Regions from separate parts of the Homo sapiens genome. Here region 2 is linked to region 1. The links come from fine-mapping of genetic effects on plasma protein levels. A gene starts in region 1. The other region holds a variant in brackets. All regions are shown on one strand. Distances are from middle to middle.

Region 1 (10,548 bases):
CTCCCCGGTCTCTTCTCTGAGTCTCTGTCCCGCTTTTCTGCCCCGTGGCGTCTCTCACTTCCCCAAAACTCTCTCACCGCTTCTGTCTCTTTTTGTCTCTGTTTCTACACACCCCATCCCATTCCCGTTCGTCCGTCCACCTCTCCGTCAGCCTCCATCTCCTTCCGTCTCTTTTCCTCCCCAGCTTTCCCTGGCTCTCTGTCTCTGTCTCTGTGTCTCTGTCTCCCGTCTCTTCTCTCTCCCGACCGCCCCGCCGCGCTCACCGCACGCGTCACACTCCATCACCGTGTTTTTCAGGAACGTGATCTCCCTGACCTGCAGGGGTGGGATGGAATCAGCGGGGTCCCAACCTCTCCTCATCCCTCGGGTCTCCCCTCTCTCTACCCCGGGGTCCCTTTCTACAGCCTCTTTTCGCCAAGGACTCCCTACCCGCCGACCCCCTTCCCTCCCCATCTCCTCTCCACCTTCTCGGGTACTTCCTCTCTCCTCGCTGGGAACTGAGACCCCCTTCCGTTCCCTGGCACTCCCTGCCCCGCACCCGGGCCCCGCACCTGCTGCCGCAGCAGCTCCCGCACGTCCTGCAGCGCCGCGTTGGTTTCCTGCAGTTCCCGAAGCATCTGCGGGCCCAGGTCTGAGCCTGCGGCGGCAGGGGACCTGGTGAGGCGTCATGGGGCCGGGGAATCCCACCACCAACTCCCACCGTTGCAGCGAACCCGGACCTCCGAGGCCCCACTGCGCTCCTCTAGTCTCGGTCCCGCCACCTGCTTTCTGCGCCCGGCACGTCCCCTACGAACAGTCCGTGAGCCCCAAACAGCCTGGATCCCGGGCCTCTCACGGGTCCTACAGTCCGTTGTGGGGCCGTGGGCACGGCGCGGGTGCTAACGCGGCTTACCCAACGGGCTCTGGCCCTGTCCGGACGCGCCGAGGGCAGCCAGGGTGAGCAGAAGAACGCAGGCGGTGTCGGGGACCATGGCGGTGGCGGGGAGCTGGGTGGCTGCTCGCTTTCTACCGCCCACGAGGCCCGCGGGGCCTATTTATCCCCAAGGCACGGCCGGCCCCAGGGACGGCCCACCACAGCCCTGCCCAACGTCCAGCCTCAAGGTAAACAGATGGCGCTGGCCCCTGCGTTCAAGTCCCCGCCCGGAATGCCCCGCGAAGTCGCCCGCGGCTGAATCCGACATGGTGGGGAAACTGAGTCCCGGGGTCTGTGGAGAGAGCTGGTGGGGCAGGGAGTCAGGGGGTACTGCCCCCACTTTCATTCACTGTGTGTGTGCGTCTGTGTGTGTGTGTGTGTGTGTGTGTGACGGGGTGTGGCTGTATCGCATCCTCTTGCTTCAGTCTCCCATGTAGCTGGGACTACAAGCCCGCACCACCAAGTCCAGCTAATTTATTTTTATTTTTATTTTTATTTTTAGAGACCGGGTCTGGCTATGTCCTGCAGGCTAGTAGTCTCAAACTCCCGGCCTCAAGCGATACTCCCCACATAACTGGGATTACAGGATCCAGCCATAGCATTCAGCTCATTGATTGATTGATTGATTGAGTGCTTGCTGTATGCCAAACCTGAGTTCCAGTTCCAAACAAGGCAGGCTCCATGGCCACGCTCTCAGCTCACACTTCGGGAAACAGAGTCACCAGCGTCTGAAAAAATAGGTCCACCCACTATGGATCAGACTGACTGGCCCTCCACTCCTCCTGAAGTGCTTCAAAACTGGGTAAGTTGCTGGGTGCGGTGGCTCACACCTGTAATCCCAGCACTTTGGGAAGCCAAGGCGGGCAGATCACCTGAGGTCAGGAGTTTGAGACCAGCCTGGCTAACATGGTGAAACCCCATCTCTACTAAAAGTACAAAAATTACCCAGGCGTAATTCCTCCCTTGCACAATGGAGGTAATAAGTTAATAATTATTAATTAATGATTAATAGTAATGATGATTATGATGATGAATGGAAAATAGGGGAGGGGCAGTTGAGACCTGGGACTCTCAATTTTCCTGCCTCTGTCCAAGGAGGCCGCTTCTGGCCCCAACGCTGGAGGGCTGCAAATGACTCCCCCCAACCCAACTCATTGCTGGTGTTCCCTCCCCTCCCCATGGTCCCTCGGCTGGTGGAGGAGGGGACAGCGTTCAGGATCTTGCCCCAACCCCTGTCCAAGGGGACAGGCCCACTTGGTTTTCCAATCTGCGCAATGGGGTGTGAGGCCCCCATCTGGAGGGGAGCAAGTTAAAGGGCTCTAGCAAGGGGAGGTCCGGGGCTTCTGTTTGTCCAGGCTGTGCCATACCTTCCAAACTGTGCTCCAGCTGCTGTGGGAACAGCCTGTAATAAAAATAAAAGTTACCGCTAACTGGCCAGCCACACTCTGGAGTTACAAAACCCCTTAACCTCCTGCAATCAGTTAACACTCTCCACTCCCACCTTCCAGTACTCACAGCGTCTATTCTATAGACAGAGAAACTGAGGCCCAGAGAGAAAAAGTGACTGGCCTAAGGCCACTGCCCGAGGGCAGGGGTGAATCTAGACTCAGAGCCAGATATGTTTTCTGGGGAGCCTACAGAGAAGTCACCGAGGGCTTCCTGGAGGAGGTAGCAAGGAGACAGACATAAAAGAAAAGGAGGACTTGGATCAGCAGAGGGAAAAGGTGAGGGCAGTTTTGGTGGAGGGAAGCATGTGAAGCTTGGAGGTGGGGACATTTCTAGACACAATAATTATTTCACAAACATCAAGGACTGTTGTGTGTCATGTCTCCTGTGCTGGGTGATGGGCACACAGGGTGAAGAAGCCAGACCCAGTCTCTCCTTCAAATGGGGAGCCCAGTGGGCTCATGGCTGTGACGGGACACACAGACAATGGTAGGAGTCCCCAGGAAATTGATCTGTTTGAAAGGGGATGGGTCAGGGCGGGCTTCTGGAGGAGGAGGGACCACCAAGCTGAGGACCGGATGATGAGGAGGACACAGCCAGGCAGAGGTAGCAGAAAGTCATTCCAGGTAGAGGAAACAGCATAGGCAAAGGCCCTGAGGCAGGAACCAACCTGGCCCGTTGGATGGACTGACCTCAAGGTGACAAGCTCTTGGGGCTCAGTGAGAAGCAGGAGATGAGGCTGTGTGTGAAAGGGCAGTGCTGGTGGTGTGGGGCTCCAGTGGTCTCCCGAGGGTAATGGGGAGCCACAGAGAGTGCGTGAAGAGAGACAGGCCTATAAGTGGAGTGTTGGTGGAAGCAGCTGGTCCCAGCCAGAGCATTTCCAATGAAGCCTGTCCTCAATAGTGCCTGCCCTGCCTGCTGCCTACATTGGGGCCATGAGCTCACCTCCTGTTTTCCTTGGCCTTCAGCACACCTGGGGGCCGCTCCTGGCAGCACTGGAATTCTCGGGAAAACCACAGCTCCAGTGGGGCCTGGGGGCTGGCATATGCTGCACACAGCTAGGACAGGAGCACATGGAAGCCAGGCCCCTGCCACAGGCTGGTCACAGTGCTGGGGCTTGGACACACGTGGCCTTATCCATGGCTGGGCCACGGGGAGTTGCAGGGAAGGGCATTCCAGGCGGAGGGAACTACAAAGGTGGAGTTCCTGAGGGTGTCCCAAGATCGGACAACAGAGGCCCGGAAAGGGGATGTCTGGGGTCACACTCCTGCCTCCTGGATCTCGCCAGCCCTGAAATCCCCCTTCTAGGCAGCAGTCCCCTCCTCCTGTGCACACCACACTTGCCTCAGATTACAGAATAACTCACTGTAGGTGTCATTCTGGGCCTTTGTACCTGCTGTTCCCCCCACCTCGTACAAACTCCTCCATCCTTCAAGGTCCAGCTATAATGTCCCCTCCTCCAGGAAGCCTTCCCTGCTGATATTCTCCAGATAACCTTCCAGCCTAGCCATGATCCTCGGGACTGTGAGTGTCTGTGGTTTGCTCTGTCCCTCCGAGCCTGAGGGGCTCCCACCCAGGGGCCTGGACTGGTGTAGAAAGGTTAGGCTGGAGGGCTTGGTGAGCCGGGACAGCATCCCTATGATTCGTGTTCATTACTATTTTTTTTTTTTTTTTTTGAGATGGAGTCTCACTTTTGTCGCCCAGCTGGAGTGCGATGGTGCAATCTCGGCTCACTGCAACCTCTGCCTCCTGAGTTCAAGTGATTCCCCTGCTTCAGCCTCCTGAGTAGCTGGGATTACTGGCACCTGCCACCACGCCCAGCTAATTTTTTTATATTTTTAGTAGAGACGGGGTTTCACCATGTTGGCCAGGTTGGTCTCGAACTTCTGACCTCAGGTGATCCACCTGCCTCAGCCTCCCAAAGTGCTGGGATTACAGGCGTGAGCCACCGCGCCTGGCCATTACTACTTTTTATAATTAATGTAATGTCATTACTATTTTTTTTTTTTTTTAAAATAGAGATGGGGGTCTTATTATGTTGCCCAGGCTAGTCTCGAACTCCTGGGCTCAACAGATCCTCCTTCCTCGGCCTCTCAAAACCCTGGGATTTCAGCCACTGCACCCAGCCAACATTATCATATGAATCCTAGTAACCCCTGCCACCTCTGTACTTGATATGGCAGGGAAGGGGGCCACACAGCCTGGGTTCAAATATTGGTGAGCATGGCCTTACTGTGTGACCTAGGACAAGTCACTTAACCTCTCTGTGCTTCAGTTTTCTCACCCATAAAATGAGGATGATCACTGTTGAGAGGATTGAATGAGCTGACCCATGGAAATCCTTCAGCCCAGCGCCCAGCTCCAGCGCTACTAGCGTGCTTATTCCATATGAAATTTATACACCGTGGGCCAGTGTGGTGGCTCACACCTATAATCCCAGCACTTTGGGAGGCCACAGCAGGTGGATCACCTGAGGCCAGGAGTTCGAGACCAGTGTGGCCAACGTGAAACTCCATCTCTACTCAAAATACAAAAATTAGCTGGACGTGGTGGCGCGTGCCTGTAATCCCAGCTAATCGGGAGGCTGAGGCAGGAGAATCACTTGAACCGGGGAGGCAGAGGTTGCAGTGAGCCGAGATCACATCACTGCACTCCAGCCTGGGCGACCGAGTGAGACCTTGTCTCAAAAAAACAAAACAAAACAAAAAAACTTATACCCTGTGCCTGTCGCTTATACCTCAGATCGTTCTTATTTCTATCTTACTCAGAGAGGAGAAGAGACAGTCTGAGGTCACACAGCCAGAATTAGAACTGAGGCATGCAAGACCCTCAAGCCCTTCATACCCGCCCTCTCTGTCCTTGCCACAGAAACAGAATCCAGCATTTCGCTGGCCCGAGCCCCTCATTAACTGGGATGTCTTCTCGGCCCAGGACCTCCTGGCCAGAGCATCTGGCCGGCGCCCCAGCCAGCCCCACACCAGGCCCCGTGGTTCCAGGAGCCCGGCCAGGCTGGGGAAGAGGGACGGGTGCCTGCATGATGGGGCCCCGGGGCCCTTCCTGGCAGACGTCTGCTCAGCCAGGAGACGTGTGGGCGCCCCGGCTCCCTGCCTCCCGCCCCCACCGTTGCCTGCCTTTGTGAATGCAGAAGGAAAGTATGTTGTGAAGGCAGCCGCCCTGCCCTGGGCGGGCCGGGCTGTAGGCCCCCAGTCTGCGGAATTCATCAGGGCGGCAGGGGAGGGCAGCTTGGCGACCTCTGCATCCTCAGCCTGCCTTGAACTGGGAGAGACGTACTGGAGGCATCTCTCTAGAAGGAACAAAAGGCAGGGGTGGGATGGGGGGCTCTGAGCTTTGAAGTCCAGGAGACGCCCCCCGACTGGCCGTGTGACCTTTGGCAGGTGCCACCTCCTCTCCCAGTCTCCTTTTTTTTTTTTTTTTTTTTGAAACAGGGTCTTGCTCTGTTGCCTGGCCTGAAGTACAGTGACAATCATAGCTCACTCATTGCAGCCTCCAACTTCTGGGCTCAAGTGATCCTCCCACCTCAGCCTCCCAAAGTGCTGGGATCACAGATGTGCACCACTGCACCCAGCCCCATTCTCCTTTTACTCAGTCCCTACCCCCATTGCATCCCAGGCTCTACTGGATGGCGATAAAGGAAGAAGACAACAATAAATACAGTGGCTACAGTTTTCTTGAGCAAGTGCCAAATGCTTGAAACCTTACCACTCAGCCTTTGTGGGTTTTCTCTTTCTGTCATCCCTTAAGTCCCAGAAGGCAGGAATTTGTCATCATGGGAGACAGTGGGGCACAGTGATGAAGGTCTCAGTCTCTGGCATCAGAGCCTGAGTTTCATATCCCAGCTCTGCTGTGGTACATGAGGCAAGTTGCTTAACCTCTCTGTGCCTCAGTTTCTTCTTTTTTCCTTTATTTCTTCTTCTTTTTTTTGCCACCTTCGAAAGTTTCTTATAATGTAAAATTTTACTTCTCAGGTTACTATACTGAAGAGTTGCTTCAGGAGAGAAAGAATTTCACCAGAGGCCGGGCGTGGTGGCTCACGTCTGTAATCCCAGCACTTTGGGAGGCCAAGGAGGGCGGATGACCTGAGGTCAGGAGTTCAAGACCAGCCTGGCCAACATGGTGAAACCCTGTCTGTACAAAAGTACAAAAATTAGCCGGGCATGATGGCAGGTGTCTGTAATCCCAGCTACTTACTTAGGAGGCTGAGGCGGGAGAATTGCTTGAACTCAGGAGGCGGAGGTTGCAGTGACCCGAGACTGCACCATTGCACTCCAGCCTGGGCGACAGAGTAAGACTCTGTGTCAAAAAAAAAAAAAAAAAAAAAAAAAAAAAAAAAATTCACTAGGAACAGATAGGAATTTCACAATATTCAATTGATACTGGTTTCTTTCTTTTTTCTCTTTTCCTTCCTTCCTTCCTTCCCTTCCTCCTTCCTCCCTCCCCCTCTCCCTTCCTTCTTCCCTCCTCCCTGTCTCTCTCTCTTCCTCTCTGTCTCCATTTCTTTCTTGTTTTTGAGGTAGGTTCCCGCTCTGTCACCCCAGCTGGACCGCAGTGGTACAAACACAGCTCACTGTAGCTCAAACTCTTGGGCTCAAGCCGTCCTCACACCTCAGCCTCCTGATTAGCTGGGGCCAAAGGCATGTGCCACCACACCTGGCTAATTTTTTTTATTTTGTAGAGACAGGGTCTTGCTCTGTTGCCCAGGCTGCTCTCTAACTCCTGGGCTCCAGTGTCCCTTCCATCTTAGCCTCCAGGGTAGCTGGAATTACAGGCATAACACCTATATTTAATGAAGGTTTCATGCAGTCAAATAAACTAGTGTCTGTGTTCTGAGGGGAGGAGAGTGCCTTCAGGGCTAACTGTAGAAGCTTTGTTCTCTCCTTCAGTCTCTCTGTCTAATGAAGTGAAAATGGAAATGTGTAAAGTTTTACGCAAGGTAACGGTAGCAGGAAAAACCAAGGTGAATATAAGTATGAGAAGAATCCTGACCTCTTAGCGTCAGTGTAAGAATTGAATGAATTAGCGCCCAGAAAGTTCACAGCCCTTGCTTGGGAGGCGGAAGTGGGAGGATCGCTTGAACCTAGGAGTTCAAAACCAGCCTGGGCAATATAGCAAGACCCTGTCTCTAAAACAAAACAAACAAACAAAAAAAAAATTTAAAATTAGCCAGGCATGGTGGTATGTGCCTGTAGTCCCAGCTACTCAGGAGGCTAAGGTGGGAGGATGGCTTGAGCCCAGAAGTTTGAAGCTGTAATGAGCTATGATTGTACCACTGTACCCCAGCCTGGGTAACAGAGTAAGACCTCGTCTCAAGAAAAAGAAAGGCCCAGGCGTGGTGGCTCACGCCTGTCATCCCACCCCAGCCTGGGTAACAGAGTAAGACCCTGTCTCAAGAAAAGGAAAGGCCCAGGCGTGGTGGCTCAAGCCTGTCATCCCAGCACTTTGGGAGGCTGAGGCAGGTGGATCACTTGAGGTCAGGAGTTAGAGACCAGCCTAAGCAACATGGTGAAACCCCATCTCTACTGAAAATACAAAAATTAGCCAGGCATGGTGGTGCATGCCTATAATCCCAGCTACTCAGGAGGCTGAGGCACGAGCGTTGCCTGAGCCCAGGAGGCAGAGGCTGCACTGAGCTGAGATCATGCCACTCTCACTCCAGCCTGGGGTGACAGAGTAAGACAGAGTAAGACTCTGTCTCAAAAAAAAAAGAAAAAAAAAAAAGGAAAAGAAAGAGCTGAGCCCTCAATCAATGTCAGCTATTAACATCCCCATTTTACAGGTTGGCAAACTGAGGCTCAGCAAGTCTGTCCTGTCTCCTCAATTTGGTCACTGGATGCTCAGAGTGGGAAGTCACCTCCTACCGCTGCCTAAGGCTCCAGGAGAGAGTCTCCCAACCAGGCTTCTGCAGTTCCCGCTGGAGAAGGTAGGGTGGGCTGTCAGCAGAGAAAGTGGAGAGTGCAGGGACCAGAGCACTACTGCAGTTCCTCAGTACCCCTCGTGCCCCTCCCAGCCCCTACCTGGGCTCATTAACAGGAGGCCCTTGTTCAGGGGAGTGATGGATGGCGTGGGAGGCCGAGGGCGGGGTGTGTTTACCCACCGGCGGCTGCAGACAGGAGCCCAGGCCAGGGCCGGGCCAGTAGGGGAGGGAGGCTCCCAGGTAGGGAGGAGCCCAGCCCCAATACTGCTGCACGGAAAGGGGCCAGCTGGGCCCCTTCTGGAAACAGAGGCCAAGGGTCAGGGAGGCCATTCTGCTGGGGAAATTGGTGCCGAGAGTTGAACAAGTGAACAGGTGCCAGCAGAGCAGAGCCCCAGGCAGAGGGCACAGCAGGGGCAAAGGCCCAGAGGTGGGTATGTGCTTGATGTGTTGGAGGTTCCGCGAGGCGTCAGGAGTGGCTGCAGCAAGCGGGGAGGGGAAATGGAGGAAATCTTCCGGCTGTGAGCCATGTTTAGGCTCCATGGGCGTGTCCATTCCCACATCTTTCTGCACGCCAGGCCCTTACCTGGGCTGTGACCGCTCCCTGGTGCCCTGTCTGCTTTCACATGGCTCATTCCTCACCCCGGCTGGCTTAGAGGCTCCCGCTGGCCTTCACAGGCCCTTGGTGTGCTCCATCAGAGCTGTGACCATGCTGTATGGGCACTGCCAGGTTACACGGGTCATGGGGCTGCCTCCTCCATCAGACTGAGCTCCACCATCTTGTTCCCCTCTGTGTTCCCTGCATATACACATGATGGAATACTCCAATAATGGATGGACAGATGGATGTATAAGTGGATGGATGGATGAGTGGATGGATGGATGGATAAGTGGATGGATGGATGGATGGATAAATGAGTGGATGGATGGATGGATAAGTGGATGGATGGATGGATGGATGGATAAATGAATGGATGTATGGAGGATGGATGGATAAGTGGATGGATGGATGGATGGATGGATGGATAAGTGCATGGATGGATGGATGGGTAAGTGGATGGATGGATGGGTAAGTGGATGGATGAATGGATGGACAAGTGGATGGATGGATGGATGGATGGATGGATGGATAAATGGATGGATGGATGAATGGATAAGTGGATGGATGGATGGATGGATGGATAGGCAAATGGATAAATAAGTGAATGGATTGATTAATGGATGGATGGATGATGTATAAGTGGATGGATAGATGGATGGATAAGTGGATGGCTGGATAGACAGATGGATAGGTGGATGGGTGCAAAGATAATGAATTGATGAATAGATGGATGAATGATGTATAAGTGAATGGATGGATAGGTAGATGGATGGGTGAATGGATGGATGGATAAGTGAATGGATGGATAAATGAATGGATAAGGAGATATATTGTATGGATGAATGAATAAGTGAATAAATAATGGATAAATGGATACATTTATACATGTGGATGGATAATGTATAAATGGATGGATAAACAGATGAATGGATGCATAAGTGGATGTATAAATGAATGAATGAATGGGTGGATGGATAGATAAGTGGGTATATAGATGAATAAGTGGATGGATGGATGAGTAAGTGGATAAATGGATGGATGGATAGGTGGATAGGCAGCTGAATGGATGGATGATGTAGAAGTGGATGGATGGATGGATGGATGGATGGATGGACAGATAAGTAGATGGATGGATAGATAAGTGGATGGATGGATAAGTGGATGAATGGGTGGATGGATAGATGGATGGATGGATGATGGAGTAAAGAAAAGCTACAAGACCACAAAACAAGGATCCACAGGACTAAGAAATGACAGAATCACATCACTGGTTAATGGAGCAACTGAACTGTGGAGTCCTAGGGCCACGGGACCACAGAGTTAGAGATCCACGCAGTCCAGTCAACAGAAGCACAGAACCGAAGGGTAGTTGGAAGCTATAGGACCCCAGTGGGGGCAGAGACAAGCCATTGGGGCATCCCACATCCACGGTGCCACCAGGATAGAGTCTCAGAGTTGACCCCAACAGAACCACCCTCTGGCCACACCCTCACCTCTCAGCTCTCCAAGGAGCCTCCCAGGGGCCACTGAAGCCACAGGGTGCTTTTTCCCCCAATCTGTGGAGCAGCCTTGGGGGACAGGACCATGCCATCGCCAATGCCTGCAGCCAGTCAGCCTCCAAACACTCAGTGAGTCCCGGCACCAGGGCCAAGTGAGGCT
Region 2 (16,199 bases), 15 kb after region 1:
GTCCTCCAGGCTGGAGTGCGGTGGCGCAATCTCGGCTCGTTGCAACCTCGGCCTCACGGGTTCAAGCATTCTCCTGCCTCAGCCTCCCAAGTAGCTGGGATTACAGGCGCCCACTACAACACCCTAATTTTTGTATTTTTAGTAGAGATGGGGTTTCACCATGTTGGCCAGGCTGGTCTCAAACTCCTTACTTCAGATGATCCGCCCTCCTCGGCCTCCCAAAATGTTGGGATTACAGGTGTGAGCCACCGTGCCTGGCCTGAGTAGCTTTAACGGGGTGACCCTGGCCATGTGCCAAGCCCCATCCCCTGTCTCTACCTCCGGCTGCTGTATTTGAGGCCCCTTCTTACTGCCCTCTGCTTGCAGGAAGGTGGGTTCTTCCTTACTCTGCTGGCCTCCCGACCTCCCCTGGGTACCAAGCCACCTTAAGCATCACAAGGAAACAGGCATTACCTGGAAGAGTCCCCACCACCAGTTTCTTTCCAAATTGCTGCTGGTGGGCCAAGGTGCGGAGGCTCATGCCTGTAATCCCATCACTTTGGGAGGCCAAGGTGGGTGTATCACCTGAGGTCAGGAGTTCGAGACCAGCCTGGCCAACTTGGTGAAACCCCGTCTCTACTAAAACTACAAAAATTAGCGGGGCGTGGTGGTGCCTGCCTATAATCCCAGCTACTCAGGGGGCTGAGGTGGGAGGATCACCTGAGCCTGGGGAGGCAGAGGTTGCAGTGAGCTATGATCGTGCCACTGTACTCCAGCCTGGGTGGCAGAGTGAGATCCTGTCACAAAAACAACAGCAACAACAACAACAAAAATTAAGGAAGGGAATTCCAGGCAGAGAGGTGAGCTTGTGCAAAGGCCCTGGGGTAGGAAGTAATTTTCTTGTTGGAGGAGGTGAGGAGGCCGATGTGACTGGAGCAGAGTGAGGGAGGAGGGGGGAGATGGGTTAGAGAGATGGGCCAAGGTGGGATCACATGGGGGCCTTGCAAGCTGCAGCAAGGAGGTGGGTTTTATTCTGAGAGCAATAGGGAGCCATGGAGAGTGTGTGAGCAGGGGAGGAACATGATTTATGATTTTAAGCCATCTCTTGTGGCTGCAATGGGGAAGAGGCCAGGCAATGTCAAGGCAAGAGCTGGTGGGGCCAGGGCCAGGGCACGGCCACAGGGTGGGGAGGAGAGGTTAGATTTGTTTGTTTTGAAGCCTGAGAGGACTAGAGCTACTGATGAGCTTGGGAAGGAAGGGAGGGAGGAGTCTCAGACGCGCCCAGATCTTGAACCCATCACAAGGTGGTTGGTAGGGTTGTTGCCCGACACAGGAAGACTTAGCAGAAAACCATGAACCCCACCTTGGCCATGTTGTTGCTGAGGTGTCTGGTCTGGGCTGGCCAGGCTCCAGATGGAACCGTGGACCTTGTGGGCAAAGAGTGGCCTGTGACTTCCAGGCCTGGGCTGTGTGCGTTGCAGGGAGATGGGCAGGGGTCTCTGGCTGCGTCCTTGATCCCCATCCTTTGTGCAAACAGGTGGGGTGGGGCAGGGGGAACCCATGTTTTCCCCATCCCGGGTCCTTTTGTTCCAGTTGGAAGCCACGACCAATTCGAAAAGTCCAGATGTGGAGTTGGACGCAACCCTTGGACCGTGCGGTCTGGGGAGGCCAGTGGCCCGTCATCCAACAGGTCAGGCCTCCATGTGGCCTCGCTGGCTGTGGCCCGGCTGGGGCTGGGGGGCAGAACGGCTTTGATTTCGAGTCTCTGGCTGAATCTGCAAAGGTTAAAAAAATAATCACCAGCACCAAGGCGTTGCCCCTTCAAGACGTCAATCCCAACACCAGGCGGAAAAAACAGGCCCTGGGGCCCCTGCCAGCCCACAGGCCTGAGACCTGCAGAGGGGCCTGATCAGAAGGCCAAAAAGCTGGGTCCCCACATCTCTCCGGGCACAAGGGGAGACTCGGCTTCCCGTCTGGAACACAGGGCATTGCTGTAGAAGCGCATCCACGTTCAAGGTCAAGTGCAGCATCTACCTGCCTGCCAAGCCCTGGCCCAGGCAGTGGGGACCCATGAGGCGAGTCAAGGTTGGCCCCGGTCTGTAGGGCTCCCAGGCCAGAGATGGGGTTTCCCCATGCTGGTCATGCTGGTCTTGAACTCCTGACCTCAAGTGATCCACCCACCTTTGCCTCCCAAGTGCTGGGATTATGGGTGTGAGCCATTGCGCCCAGCCCCTTCCTTCATATTTACATAAAATACCCTTCTGTGACCCAGGACTTGGCTTAAATGTCAACACCTCAGGAGACCTTTCCCAACCCATGGGCAAAAATACCTACACCCAGGTATTTCTTTCAGACACTTCTCACTCTTGGAAATGATCTTCTCGGCTACATTTTCATGAGGTTGGGAACGTGGTTTATCCGCAGTTTGTGCCATTGTACCTGGCATATACTAGGTGAGATTGTCTCCTTGGGGACAAAGGAGGATGCTGGCTATCACAACAAAGTTTCACAAACATATACCCTCTGAGACCCCCAGACCTCCCCCAGCAGTGCCCCAGGATTTACAACCAGAACTTTATTTATTTATTTATTTATGAGCTGGAGTCTCGCTCTGTCGCCCAGGCTGAAGTGCAGTGGTGCAATCCCGGCTCACTGCAGCCTCGACCCCCTGGGCTTGGGTGATCTTTCCACCTCAGCCTCTCAAGTAGCTGGGACCATAGGCACATATCACCCTGTCCAGCTAATTTTTATATTTTGTAGAGACAAGGTCTTGCTGTGTTGCCCAGGCTGGTCTCAAACTCCTGGGCTCAAGTGATCCAACCACCTTGGCCTCTCTAAGTGCTAGGATTACAGGTGTGAGGTACCACACCTGGCCTACAACCCAGAAATTTGCCCTCAATAAATGGCAGAGTGAGGCTGGTCACAGTGGCACACATCTGTAATCCCAGCATTTTGGGAGGCCATGGTGGGAGGATCACTTAAGACCAGAAGTTCAAGACCAGCCTGGGCAACATGGTGAAACCCCCATCTCTACTAAAATACAAAAGAAATTAGCCAGGTGTGGCGGTGTGTGCCTGTAGTACCAGCTACTCGGGAGACTGAGGCAGGAGAATTTCTTGAACCTGGGAGGCAAAGATTGCAGTGAGCTGAGATTGCACCACTGCACTCCAGCCTGGGCGACAGAGCAAGACTCCTTCTCTAAAAAAAAAAAAAAAAAAAAAAAAAAAAAAAAAATAGGGCCGGGCGCGATGGCTCACGCCTGTAATCCCAGCACTTTGGGAGGCCAAGGTGGGCAGATCACAAGGTCAGGAGATCAAGACCCTCCTGGCTAACATGGTGAAACCCCGTCTCTACTAAAAATACAAAAAAATTAGCCGGGCGTGGTGGCAGGTGCCTGTAGTCCCAGCTACTTAGGAGGCTGAGGCAGGAGAATGGCGTGAACCTGGGAGGCGGAGCTTGCAATAAGCAGAGATTGTGCCACTGCACTCCAGCCTGGGCGACAGAGCAAGACTCCATTTCAAAATAAATACATAAATACATAAATAAATAATAGGCAGGCACAGTGACTCATGCCTATAATCCCAGCACTTTGGGAGTGCCGTGGTAGGAGGATCACTTGAGACCAGGAGTTCAAGGCCAGCCTGGATAACATTATGAGACCTCACCTCTTTTTTTTTTTTTTTTTTTTGAGACAAAGTCTCCCTCTGTTGCCCAGGCTGGAATGCAATGGCGTGGTCTTGGCTCATTGCAACCTCTGCCGCCTGGGTTCAATCGATTCTCCTGCCTCAGCCTCCTGAGTAGCTGGGATTACAGGTGCGCACCATGACGCCCAGGTAACTTTTGTATTTTTAGTAGAGACGGGGTTTCACCATGTTAGTCAGGCTGGTCTCGAACTCCTGACTTCATGATCTGCCTGCCTTGGCCTCCCAAAGTGCTGGGATTACAGGCGTGAGCCACAGCACCCGGCCGAGACCTCATCTCTTAAAAAAAAATTAGGCCAGGCATGGTAGCTCATGCTTGTAATCCCAGCACTTTGGGAGGCTGAGGTGGGGCTAAGGTCAGGAGTTCGTGACCAGCCTGGCCAATATGGTGAAACCCCGTTTCGGCTGGGCGCGGTGGCTCATGCCTGTAATCCCAGCACTTGGGAAGACAAAGGTGGGTGGATCACGAGGTCAGGAGATCGAGACCATCCTGCCCAACATGATGAAACCCCGTCTCTACTAAAAATGCAAAAATTAGCTGGGTGTGGTGGCACGTTCCTGTAATCCCAGCTAATCAGGAGGATGAGGCATGAGAATTGCTTGAACCCAGCAAGCGGAGGTTGCAGTGAGCCGAGATCGCGCCACTGCACTCCAGCCTGGTGACAGAGCGAGACTCTGTCTAAAAAAAAAAAGAAAAAAAGAAAAGAAACCCCGTTTCTACTAAGAATACAAAAATTAGCTGGATATGGTAGCAGGCACCTGTAATCCCAGCTACTTGGAAGGCTGAGGTAGGAGAATTGCTTGAACTCAGGAGGCGGAGGTTGCAGTGAGCTGAGATTGCACCATTGCACTACAGCCTGGGTGACAGAGCGAGACTCCGTCTCAAAAATAAATAAATAAAATTAAAAAACAATAATAAATAAAATAAATAAATGGCAGAGTGGTTTGAGTCATGCTGGAGGCGCACAGGCAGCTATGGAGGGTCAGCAGGAGGGACTGCTATGCTGCGACTGAAGGAGAGATGAGAATTGGCCTGGTAAGAGGCCACAGAGGGTGCTCGGGTGGGGGGACCAGCGTGTGTAAAGGCTTGGAGGCGACAGAGAACGATGGAGTGTTTCTGGAACTGTGTGTAGAGGGGCCCAACTCACACAGAGTGAGGGGAGAAAGGGCCATACTGCTGGAAGGGCCCACAAGCCCTGGGACGATGGGACTTGGACTCCATCCCAGGGCAATGGGGAGCCATGGGAGGTATGTGAGCAGAAGGCACATCAGACCTGTACCCCCTCGTCCTGTGCCAGGTACCGAGAGGCTCCCTCCCAGACCTGGGAACCCCATGGGCTCAACATGCATGGTAGACACATCTCAAAGCAGTTTTATGTGAATTCCTGAGGAGAGCTGTCTCCAACAGGCCAGGCCACCCGCTATCCTCACCACCACGGGGCTGGGGAGGTCTGTCGTCCACAGGAGCCTCCCAGACCCAGATAATGCGCTGACAGCTGCCTGGCCCTGCCTGGGCCTCGAGGCCTCCCCCCAGCATGGCTGGGTTCCCCCGAGGCCCGGGTCTGACTACCCCTTCCCGGCCTGACTACCCCTTCCTGGCCCTCGGTGGATGCTGAAGACATTTCTTCTTATTCCGCTGGAATTTTCCTCGTGGACCATGCCAGCGCCTCCAGAAACACATGAAAGGAAAATGTTTCCAGTCTGAGCAGGGCTGTTTTATTGCTCTCCGGGCTGGGAGTCTGACCACAGAGTGGAAAGGGCTCGTCATACCACTGTTCCTCCTGCTGAAGCGGCTCGGACCCGGCCCGCCCTGCCATGCCCTCCTTGGAGGCCCGGGTTCTGCAGGGTTTTTTTTTTTTTCCTTTTTTTTGAGAGAGGGTCTTGCGCTGTCACCCAGGCTGAACAGGCTGGGGTGCAGTGGTGCGATCTCGGCTCACTGCAGCCTCCACCTCCTAGGCTCAAGCGACCCTCCTGCCTCAGCCTCCTGAGTAGCAGGGACTACAGTCTCTTGCCACCA[T/C]GCCTGGCTAACTTTCCAAAACTTTTTGTAGAGATGGGATCTCCCTATGTTGCCCAGTTTGGTCTTGGACTCCTGGGCTCATGTGATCCTCCTGCCTCGGCCTCCCAAAGTGCTAGGATGACAGGCATGAGGCATTGCTCCTGGCCTCTGCAGGGTTTTTCCAGCTAAGGAAAGTTTCCCCTGCCCTTGTCCCCCTGACCAGGGAGCAACTCCCTCAAAAAATAGAGGTTGGGGGCCGGGCACACTGGCTCATGCCTGTAATCCCAGCACTTTGGGAGGCTGAGGTGAATGGATCACCTAAGGTCAGGAGTTCGAGACCAGGCTGGCCAACATGATGAAACCCCGTCTCTACTAAAAATACAAAAATTAGCCTGGTATGCTGGCACATGCCTATAATCCCAGCTACTCAGGAGGCTGAGGCACAAGAATCTCTTGAACCTGGGAGGCGGAGGTTACAGCGAGCTGAGATCTCACCACTGCACTCCAGCCTGGGTGACAGAGTAAGACTCTGTCTCAAAAAAGAAAAGAAAGAAAATAGAAAAGAAAAGAGGAAAGGAAAAAGAAAAATAGAGGTTGGGAGCTCAACCTTGGAGCTGATGCGTTTTTCCATCGTTTATTCATTCAACAGTCTACTTTTTTCCCAGAGTGTGCCCATTTCTGCATCGGGTGCTGGGGCGCAAATGGGAACAAGGAGGATCTGTCACTATTCTTTGGGAGCTCGTGGAAAGGTGGAAGGGGGGGCTTCATGTGACCCCATTCCCAGAGCTGAACATGGAGGCTTGGGGGGAAGCTGCTTGCCTGAGATGGTGCAAGGGAATAAGTGACAGGGTCAGAACGCAACACACAGAGTGGCTCCAAAACCGGTTTTCTGGTGTGGTGGCCCGTGCCTGTAATCCCAGCCACTCAGGAGGCTGAGGCAGGAGAACTGCTTGACCCCTGGAAGCTGCACTCTAGCCTGGGCAACAGAGTGAGACTCAGTCTCAAAAAATATATAAAATAAAATAAAATAAAGTGCACAATTCCCTGGCATTCAGTGCACACACCATGTTGTGCAATCACTACCTCGATCTACTTCCAGACTATTTCGTCACCCCGTAAAGACGCTCCGTTCCCATCAGCGGTCACTCCCCCTTCCTCTCCCCAGGCCCTGGCAACCACAAATCTGCTTTCTGTCTCTGTGGATTTGCCAGTTCTGGCCATTTCCTACAAATGGAATCACACACTATGTGACATTTCGTGTCTGGCATCTTTCACTTGGCATGTGTTTTTGGGGTTCGTCCATGCTGTAGCAGGGAGCAGTGCATCCTTCCTCTTTTGTTTTGTTTTTGTTTTGTACTTCATTCCTTTTTGTGGCTGAATCATATTCCATTGCATAGATGGACCACATTTTGTTTATCCATTCGTCTGTTGAGGGACATTTGGATCATTTCTACTTTTTGGTTATTTAATTTCCTTTTATTTATTTATTTTATTTTTGAGACAGAGTCTCACTCTGTCGCCCAGGCTGGAGTGCAGTGGCGTGATCTCGGCTCATTGCAACCTCCGCCTCCTGGGTTTCAGAGATTCTTCTGCCTCAGCCTCCTGAGTAGCTGAGACTACAAGTGCGTGCCACCACACCCCAGTAATTTTTGTATTGTTTTGTGTTTTTTTTTTTCCTTTTTGAGATGGAGTCTCACTCTGTCACCCAGGCTGGAGTACAGTGGCACAGTCTCGGCTCACTGCAACCTCCGCCTCCCAGGTTCCAGCGATTATCCTGCCTCAGCCTCCCAAGTAGCTGGGACTACAGGTGCATGCCACCACGCCCGGTTAATTTTTGTATTTTTTAGTAGAGATGGGATTTCACCATATTGGCCAGGCTGGTCTCAATCTCCTGACCTCATGATCCATCTGCCTCAGCCTCCCAAAGTGCTGGGATTACAGGCATGAGCCACCACGTCCGGCCCTAATTTTTGTATTTTTAATAGAGACAGGGCTTCACCATGTTGGCCAGGCTGGTCTCGAACTCCTGACCTCAAGTGATCTGCCAACCTTGGTCTTCCCAAGTGCTGGGATTACAGGCGTGAGCCACCGAGTCCAGCCTTTTTTTAGGGGACAGCAGGGTAACTCTCCGTCACCCAGACTGGAGTGCAGTGGCGTGATCATGGCTCATGGCAGCTTCAACATCCTGAGCTCAAATGATCCTCCTGCCTCGGCCCCCAAAATAGTTGGGACTACAGGTTCATGCCACTATGCCTGGCTTATTTTTTCTTTTTCTTTTTATTATTTATTTATTTTTTGAGATGGAGTTTCGCTCTGTCACCTAGGCTGGAGTGCAATGGTGCGATCTCAGCTCACCAAAATCTCCGCCTCCCGGGTTCAAGTGATTCTCCTGCCTCAGCCTCCCGAGGAGCGGGGATTACAGGCATGTGCCACCATGCCCGGCTAATTTTGTATTTTCAGTAGAGACGGGGTTTCTCCACGTTGGTCAGGCTGGTCTCAAACTCCCAACCTCAGGCGATCTGCCCGCCTCAGCCTCCCAAAGTGTTGGGATTACAGGCGTGAGCCATCACGCCTACTTCCTTTCTCACAATTTTAAACAGTGCTGTTATTGGCCTGGCACCGTGGCTCATGCCTATAATCCCAGCACTTTGGGAGGCCAAGATGGGTGGATCTCTTTGAGCTCAGGAGTTTGAGACCAGCCTGGGCAACACGGTGAAACTCTGTTTCTATAAAACATAACAAACAAACAAACAAACAAACAAAATTAGTCCGGCTTGGTGGCTCATGCCTGTAGTCCCAGCTACTCAGGAGGCTGAGTAGCTCTGTCGCCCAGGCTGGAGTGAAATGGTGTGATCTCAGCTCACCGCAACCTCTGCCTCCCAGATTCAAGCGATTCTCCTGCCTCAGCCTCCTGAGTAGCTGGGATTACAGGGGCCCACCACTACGCCCAGCTAATTTTTTGTATTTTTAGTAGAGACAGCATTTCACCATGTTGGCCAGGGTGACCTTGAACTTCTGACCTCAGGTGATCTGCCAGCCTCAGCCTCCCAAAATACTGGGATTACAAACATGAGCCACTGTGCCTGGCCTAGACCTCATATTTTTAAAAGCAGCTAGTCAGGGTTTTTTAGAGAAATAGAAGCAATTGGATAGGCATGTATTGATAGAAAAAGATTTATTGTGAGGGATTGGCTCACACACTTATGGAGGCTGAGAAGTCCTACTATCTGCTGGCTGCAAACTGTGGACCCAGGAAGCCAGTGATGTCTTTTTTTTTGTTTTTTTGTTTTTGTTTTTCTTTCTTTCTTTTTGAGATGGAGTCTCACTCTGGCCCAGGCTGGAGTACAATGACGCAATCTCAGCTCACTGCAACCTCCACCTCCCAGGTTCAAGTGATTCTCCTGCCTCAGCCTCCTGAGTAGCTGAGATTACAGGTGCGCACCAACCATGCTCCGTTAATTTTTGTATTTTTTAGTAGAGATGGGGTTTCACCATATTGGCCAGGCAGGTCTCGAACTCCTGACCTCATGATGCACCTGCCTCGGCCTCCCAAAGTGCTGGGATTACAGGCGTGAGCCACTGTGCCTGGCCTCGTTGTTTTTCTTGAGATAGAGTCTCACTCTGTCACACTGGCTGGCGTGTAGTAGCACAATCTTGGCTCACCGCAACTTTCACCTCTCGAGTTCAAGCGATTGTCCTGCCTCAGCCTCCCGAGTAGCTGAGATTACAGGCACGCACCACCACATCCCACTAATTTTTGCATTTTTTTGTAGAGATGGGTTTTCGCCATGTTGCCTAGGCAGGTCTTGACCGCCTGGGCTCAAGCGATCCTCCTGCTTCGAACTTGCAAAGAGTTGGGATTACAGGTGAGAGCCAGAACATCTCTCGTTTGATCTTGTCACCTTCTAACACATGACACCAGTTTCTTATTCCTGATGGCTTTGTTATTGTTCTTCTCTCTACTAGAGTCGGCTACATGAGGCCACATGGTCGTCTGTGAATTGGGGACAGTGACACCCACCTCGATGTGTATATAGGGTGGGGGTCCACAGGGCCCACAGGGAAGTGTATTTGGTTTCCCACCATCACACCTTCCAAAACAGCCTCGGTAGCCGGATGTGGTGGCTCATGCCTGTAATCCCAGCACTTTGGGAGACTGAGGCAGGATGATTATTTGAGGCCAGAAGTTTGAGACCAGCCTGAACAACATAACAAGACCCCTGACTCTACAAAAAATTAAAAAATTAGCCAGGTGTGGTGGCCCATGCTTGTAGTCCCATCTACTGAAGAGGCTGAGGTGGAAGGATCACTTTAGCTTGGGAAGTCAAGGCTGCAGTGAGCTATGATCGCGCCACTGCACTTCAGCCTGAGTGACAGAGCGAAACCCCGTCTCAAACAAGCAAACCAACAATAATAAAACAGCCACAGTGAACTTCCATCCAAAATATATCCCAGGCTGGGCGCGGTGGCTCATGCCTGTAATCCCAGCACTTTGGGAGGCCAAGGTGGGCGGATCACTTGGGGCCAGGAGTTTGAGACCAGTCTGGTCAACATGGTAAAACCTCTTCTCTACTAAAAATACAAAAAATTAGCTGGGTGTAGTGGTGCACGCCTGTAATCCAAGCTACTAGAGAGGCTGGGGCAGAAGAATCGCTTGAACCCCGGAGGTGGAGGTTGCAGTGAGCTGAGACCGTGCCACTGCACTCCAGCCTGGGAGACAGAGCACAACTCTGTCTCAAAACAAAAATAAAAACAAAAACAAAAAACAAAATATATCCCAGCCTGAAGCCTGGCTCGGGAATTCCAAGGGGTCTGCAGGGGCTACCTTCCTCTCCAGACACTGTCAGCAACCTTTACCACCCTCAATAGCAGCCTTGAGTCTCTGCAGCAACCAAAGCTTTGAGGCCAAGCCAAAACCCACCTCCCTGACACGCTAGCACATCCCCAAAAAAGCAACCTGTGATCGTAGAATCAAGGTGGCTGCCGGCTTGCCCCCGCCACCTGAGGTTTACACAGACCCACCATCCCCTTCAAAGACACTGTTCAAAGCAAGGAGAGCTCTAACACAGACACACACACACCTATTTTTCTTTTCACTACCAGCATGCCCGGGTGTGCCTGAGGCTTGGCTGTGTATCCAGATCCCACAAGGGGCTCCTTTGAAACAGGAATGGGGCCACAGAGGAGGGGCCCACAGGAACCCGCAAGCACCCACTGTTCCTAGGGAGGAGTGCTGTACATGGAGGGTCCCGGGTCCACCCGAACTGGCCACACTTCTGCAAGGGCAGCCACCGCGAGGGCCACGTCTGTGGAAGCTGGGAGCTCAACAAAAAGGGTTTCTTTTTTTTCCTTTTTTTGAGATGGAGTCTCACTCTGTCACCCAGGCTGGAGTGTAGTGGCGTGATCTCGGCTCACTGCAACCTCCGTCTCCCTGGTTCGAGCGATTCTCCTGCCTCAGCCTCCCGAGTAGCTGGGATTCCAGGCACCCACCACCACGCCTGGCTAATTTTTGTATTTTTTAGTAGAGACGGGATTTCACCATGTTGCCCAGACTGGTTTCGAACTCCTGACCTTCAAGTGATCTGCCCGCCTCAGCCTCCCAAAGTGCTGGGATTATAGGCATGAAACACCGTGCCCTGCCAACAAAGTGGATTTTAAAGAGACCCAAGTCTGGGCTGGGAGAAGCCACTGCAATATCCTAAATATCCTTTTCCCAAAGCCGTGGAATTTCTCTGCAGCGGCCAGGGCCAACGCTTACCCTCGAGGGACCTCTCTTGGTATGAAGGAAAAATTCCATTTTCCTGGACCTGGGGAAGCTGATGTGGAACTCGAGGAGGGGCCAGCCTACGTTGAGAGCAGACACAGGGCACAGGGTAGGTTATAAATTTAGGACTCCAGGCTCAGGGGCGTGACCAGGCTGATTTAGGTCTTCAAGCAGGACAGTGCTAGGGATGGCCTCATTCAATATTTTTTTCTTTTCTTTTTTTTTCTGAGATGGAGTCTTGCTCTGTTGCCCAGGCTGGAGTGCAGTGGTGTGATCTCGGCTCACTGCAACCTCTACCACCCGGGTTCAAGCGATTATCCTACGTCAGCCTCCCGAGTAGCTGGGACTACAGGTGAGCGCCACTAGGTCTGGCTAATTTTTTGTATTTTTAGTAGAGACGGGGTTTTGCTGGGTTGGCCAGGCTGGTCTTGAACTGAACTCAAGTGATCCGCCCACCTGGGCCTCCCAAAATGCTAGGATTACAGGCATGAGCCACGGTGCCCAGCCTCATTCATTTTTTTTTTTTTGAGATGGGATCTTGCTATATTGCCCAGGCTGGTCTAGAATTCCTAGGCTGAAGGGATCCTTTTGCCTCAGCTTCCTGAGAACCTGGGACTACAAGTGCATGCCACCATGCCTGGCAAGGTTGGCCTCATTCTGTCTGGAACCCGGCCTAGACTGGGCGAGAGAGACACTTGTGATAAAGACCCATGGAGACTTCAATTTGTCTGAAACTTTTAAAAAGTTTCAATAATGAGCCGGGTGCAGTGGCTTATGCCTGTAATCCCAGCACTTTGGGAGGCCAAGGCAGGAGGATCACTTGAACCCAGGAGTTTGAGACAAGCCTGGGCAACATGGTGAGACCCTGTCTCTATAAAAAAGTAAAAAAAATTGGCCAAGCACGGTGGCTCACACCTGTAATCCCATCACTTTGGGAGGCCGAGACGGGCTGGATACCTGAGGTCGGGAGTTCAAGACTAGCCTGACCAACATGGAGAAACCCCATCTCTACTAAAAATACAAAATTAGCCGGGCGTGGTGGCGCATGCCTGTAACCCTAGCTACTTGGGAGGCTGAGGCAGGAGAATCGCTTGAACTCAGGAGGAGGAGGTTGCAGTGAGCCAAGATCTCACCATTGCACTCTAGCCTGGACTAGAGTGAAACTCTGTCTCAAAAAAAAAAAAAGTGAAAAATGTAGCCAGGCATGGTGGCCCGTGTCTGTAGTCCCACCTGCTTGAAAGGCTGAGGCAGGAAGATTGCTTGAACCCAAGAGATCAAGGCTGCAATGAGCCATCACGGTGCCACCAGCCTGCACTCCAGCCTGGGCAACAGAGCAAGATCCTGTCTCAAAAAATATATATTCAATAATGAATCGTCACAATTTAGACAAAGAAAAGAACGCAAGCATTCATAAATAGCTCCTGCTCAGTGGCGGCTGGTCAGATACCAGGTGCCACCATATGCCCCTCATGTATCACTCTCTGGGGTGTTGGGGGTGTCACTAGATTCCATTTCTCAGGTGAAACACAGAGAGACCAAGACATTGGAGAGAGGTCACACAGCAAGCAGATGGCTGGGCAGACATGTGAATTCAGACGTGATGTAGTTGACCCAGACTCACTATCTCCATCCCCTGTGGTTTGAACACAGTGATGTGTCATATGTCTGCCAGCACTTTCATCTTGAACTTCCCGGGCTCAAGAACTATAAGCAACACATTTCAGTTTTTCTTTTTTCTTTTTCTTTTTATCTTTTGAGATGGAGTCCTGCTCTGTTGCCCAGACTGGAGTGCAATGGTGCGATCTCAGCTCACTGCAACCTCGGCCTCCCGAGTTCAAGTGATTCGCCTGCCTCAGCCTCCTGTGTAGCTGGGAATCACAGGCACTCACCACCATGCCTGGTTAATTTTCATATTTTTAGTAGAGACGGGGATTTGCCATGTTGGCCAGACTGGTTTCAAACTCCTGACCTCAGGTGATCCGTCTGCCTTGGCTTTCCAAAGTGCTGGGATTACAGGCGTGAGGCCACTATGCCTGGCCCAGTTTTTATTTTTATTTTTGAGACAGGGTCTCGCTCTGTCGCCCAGGCTGCAGTGCAGTGGTGTGATCTCAGCTCACTGCATCCTCGACCTTCTAGGCTCAAGCAATTCTCCCACCTCAGCCTCCTGAGTAGTGGGGACTACAGGCCCACATCACCATGCCCAGCTAATATGTCAAAATTTTTTGTAGAGACAGGGTCTCACTATGTTGCCCAGGCTGTTTTCAAACTCCTGGGCTCAAGCGATCCTCCTGCCTTGGCCTCCCAAAGTGCTGAGATTACAGACGTGAGCCACTACACCTGGCCCCTGCCAAATATTTTTAATCCCCACTTGGTTGCGTCTGAAGGTGCAGGGCCGACTGATAGAGAAGATCACTGTATTGTTTGTTAGGTTTTTAAAAATAGCTAGAAAAAAAAATCTGCACCATAAGACAGGTTGAGAAAAAATAACTAGTAGCCAAGTAAACAAAAGTGGTCATGGGCCCTCCAGTGATGACTAGACCAAGCACTGTTTTTATTCTCAGCCTCTCCATATGACATACTAGAAAATCCCTCTGGAGAGGGGATTACATGCAGATGCCAGCCGGATGCGGTGGCTCATGCCTGTAATCCCAGTACTTTGGGAGGCCGAGGCGGGCAGATCACTTGAGGTCAGGAGTTCCAGACCAGCCTGGCCAACATGGAGAAACCCCTTCTCTACAGAAAATACAAAAAATTGGCCAGGTGTGGTGGTGGGCACCTGTAATCCCAGCTACTTGGGCTGAGGCCCAAGAATTGCTTGAGCCTGTGAGGCGGAGGTTGCAGTGAGCCGAGATCGCGCCATTGCACTCCAGCCTGGGCTACAGAGTGAGACTTTGTCTTTAAAAATATATATATAAAAAATAAAAATAAATAAATGCAAATGACTGGGCCCACCTAGGACTCTCTTAAACTGAGTGCCTGGGTGGAGGTGGAGGGTGATCCTCGGAGACTGTGCCCCTCGAATCCGAGATGTCTGCATCCAGGGGAAGTCTTGGTGCCTTTGAAAGTCCTTTTGTCCCCACTGGGACAAATTATCCCTTTTTTGTTGTTTTTTGAGACATGGTCTCGCTCTGTCACCCAGGCTGGAGTGCAGTGGCTCGATCTCGGCTTACTGCAAACTCCGCCTCCCGGGTTCAAGTGATTCTCCTGCTTCAGCCTCCCAAGTAGCTGGATTACAGGCATGGGCCACAACACCTGGCTAATTTTTGGATTTTCAGTGGAGACGGGATTTCACCATGTTGGCCAGGCTGGTCTCGAACTCCTGTGCTCAAGCGGTCCTCCCTTCTCGGCCTCCCAAAGTGTTGGGATTATAGGCGTGAGCCACTGCGCCCAGCTGACAATTTCTTTTGGGTGATTTTTTAGAGTCTCCAGTTGAATCCCACTTCCCAAGCCCCATGCCAGATTCAAAGACAGCTCACGTCTCTGTCCAAGCCTCAATCTCCCCCTCTGGAAAATGGGTTGATACCACCTGCTCTCAGAATTGCTGGGCACTGCTTGTTAACTGATGGTGTCCTGTTTTTTGTGTCACACTAAGGTTTCGCAACCTCAGCATGTTGACGTTTGGGGCAGGATAGTTCAATTTTTGTGGGGGACTGTCCCGTGCATCATAGATGTTTAGGAGCATCCCTGGCCCCTACCCACTAGACGACAGTAAAGAGTTGCTGGATTCAGCAAATATAAATACAGAAAACCCCGTTAAACGTAAACTGCAGATAAACAAATACTGCTTCTGCCTAAGTATGTCTCAAATGTTGCATGGCACATACTTATACTAAAAAGACATTTGAGCCAGGCGCGTTGGCTCACGCCTGTAATCCCACAACTTTGGGAGGCCAAGGCGGGCGGATCACGAAGTCAGGAGTTCAAAACCAGCCTAACATGGTGAAACCCCTCTCTACTAAAAAATAAAAATTAGCCAGGCGTGGTGGCAGGTGCCTGTAATCCCAGCTACTCAGGAGCCTGAGGCAGGAGAATCGCTTGAACCCGGGAGGTGGAGGTTGCAGTGAGCTGAGATCGTGCCACTGCACTCCAGCCTGGGTGACAGAACGAGACTCCGTCTCAAAATAACAAACAAACAAACACAACTCACAGAATAGGAGGGAACATTTGCAAATCATGTACCTGCTAAGAGATTTGTATCCAGAATAGAAAAATAACTTTTTTTTTTTTTTTTTTTTGAGATGGAGTCTCGTTCTGTTGCCCAGGCTGGAGTGCAGTGGCGTGATCTCGGCTCACTGCAAGCTCCGCCTCCCGGGTTCAGGCCATTCTCCTGCCTCAGCCTCCCGAGTAGCTGGGACTACAGGCGCCTCCACCACGCCCGGCTAATTTTTTGTATTTTTACTAGAGATGGGGTTTCACCGTGTTAGCCAGGATGGTCTCGATCTCCTGATCTCGTGATCCACCCGCCTCGGCCTCCCAAAGTGCTGGGATTACAGACGTGAGCCACCGCGCCCGGCCGAAAAAAACTCTTATAAATCAACAATAAAAAGATAAATAACAGAATGTATTTGTTTAGTTATTTATTTTTCAGAGACAGGATCTCACTGTGTGGCCCAGACTTGAGTGCAATGGCCCCATTCTAGCTCCTAGCTCACTGCAGCCTTGAATTCCCGGGCTCAAGCGATCCTCCCACCTCAGCCTTCCAAGTATCTAGGACTACAGGTGTGTGCCACCATGCCTGACTAAGTTTTTGCTTTTATTT

Which allele goes with the higher level. Positions count from the first base shown, and alleles are read on the strand shown. Strength reflects both the effect of a copy and how common the allele is.
For the plasma level of the protein whose gene starts at base 1,007 in region 1, allele C in region 2 goes with a higher level than allele T (weak association).

Evidence for each region. PIP is the chance, under the fine-mapping model, that this variant and not a neighbour inherited with it causes the effect. The UK Biobank Pharma Proteomics Project read protein levels with antibody pairs (Olink). The fine-mapping took linkage between variants from a reference panel, not from the people measured, so its PIPs are less certain.
Region 2: its variant is fine-mapped to the plasma level of the COMP protein (UK Biobank, PIP 0.92).

The regions. Positions count from the first base shown.
Region 1 is chr19:18,790,299-18,800,846 of GRCh38, forward strand. COMP (cartilage oligomeric matrix protein) reads right to left here and starts at 1,007. Exons shown (of 19, transcript NM_000095.3): 1 at 893-1,007; 2 at 552-637; 3 at 264-315. The coding sequence starts at 971. RefSeq lists enhancers at 1-166, 167-747, 748-1,326, 4,882-5,411.
Region 2 is chr19:18,802,805-18,819,003 of GRCh38, forward strand. No RefSeq gene overlaps it. Among named protein-coding and RNA genes, the nearest start is that of COMP, 20 kb to the left of the region's middle. RefSeq lists a silencer at 3,376-3,670. The variant T/C (reference allele first, on the strand shown) is at 5,698.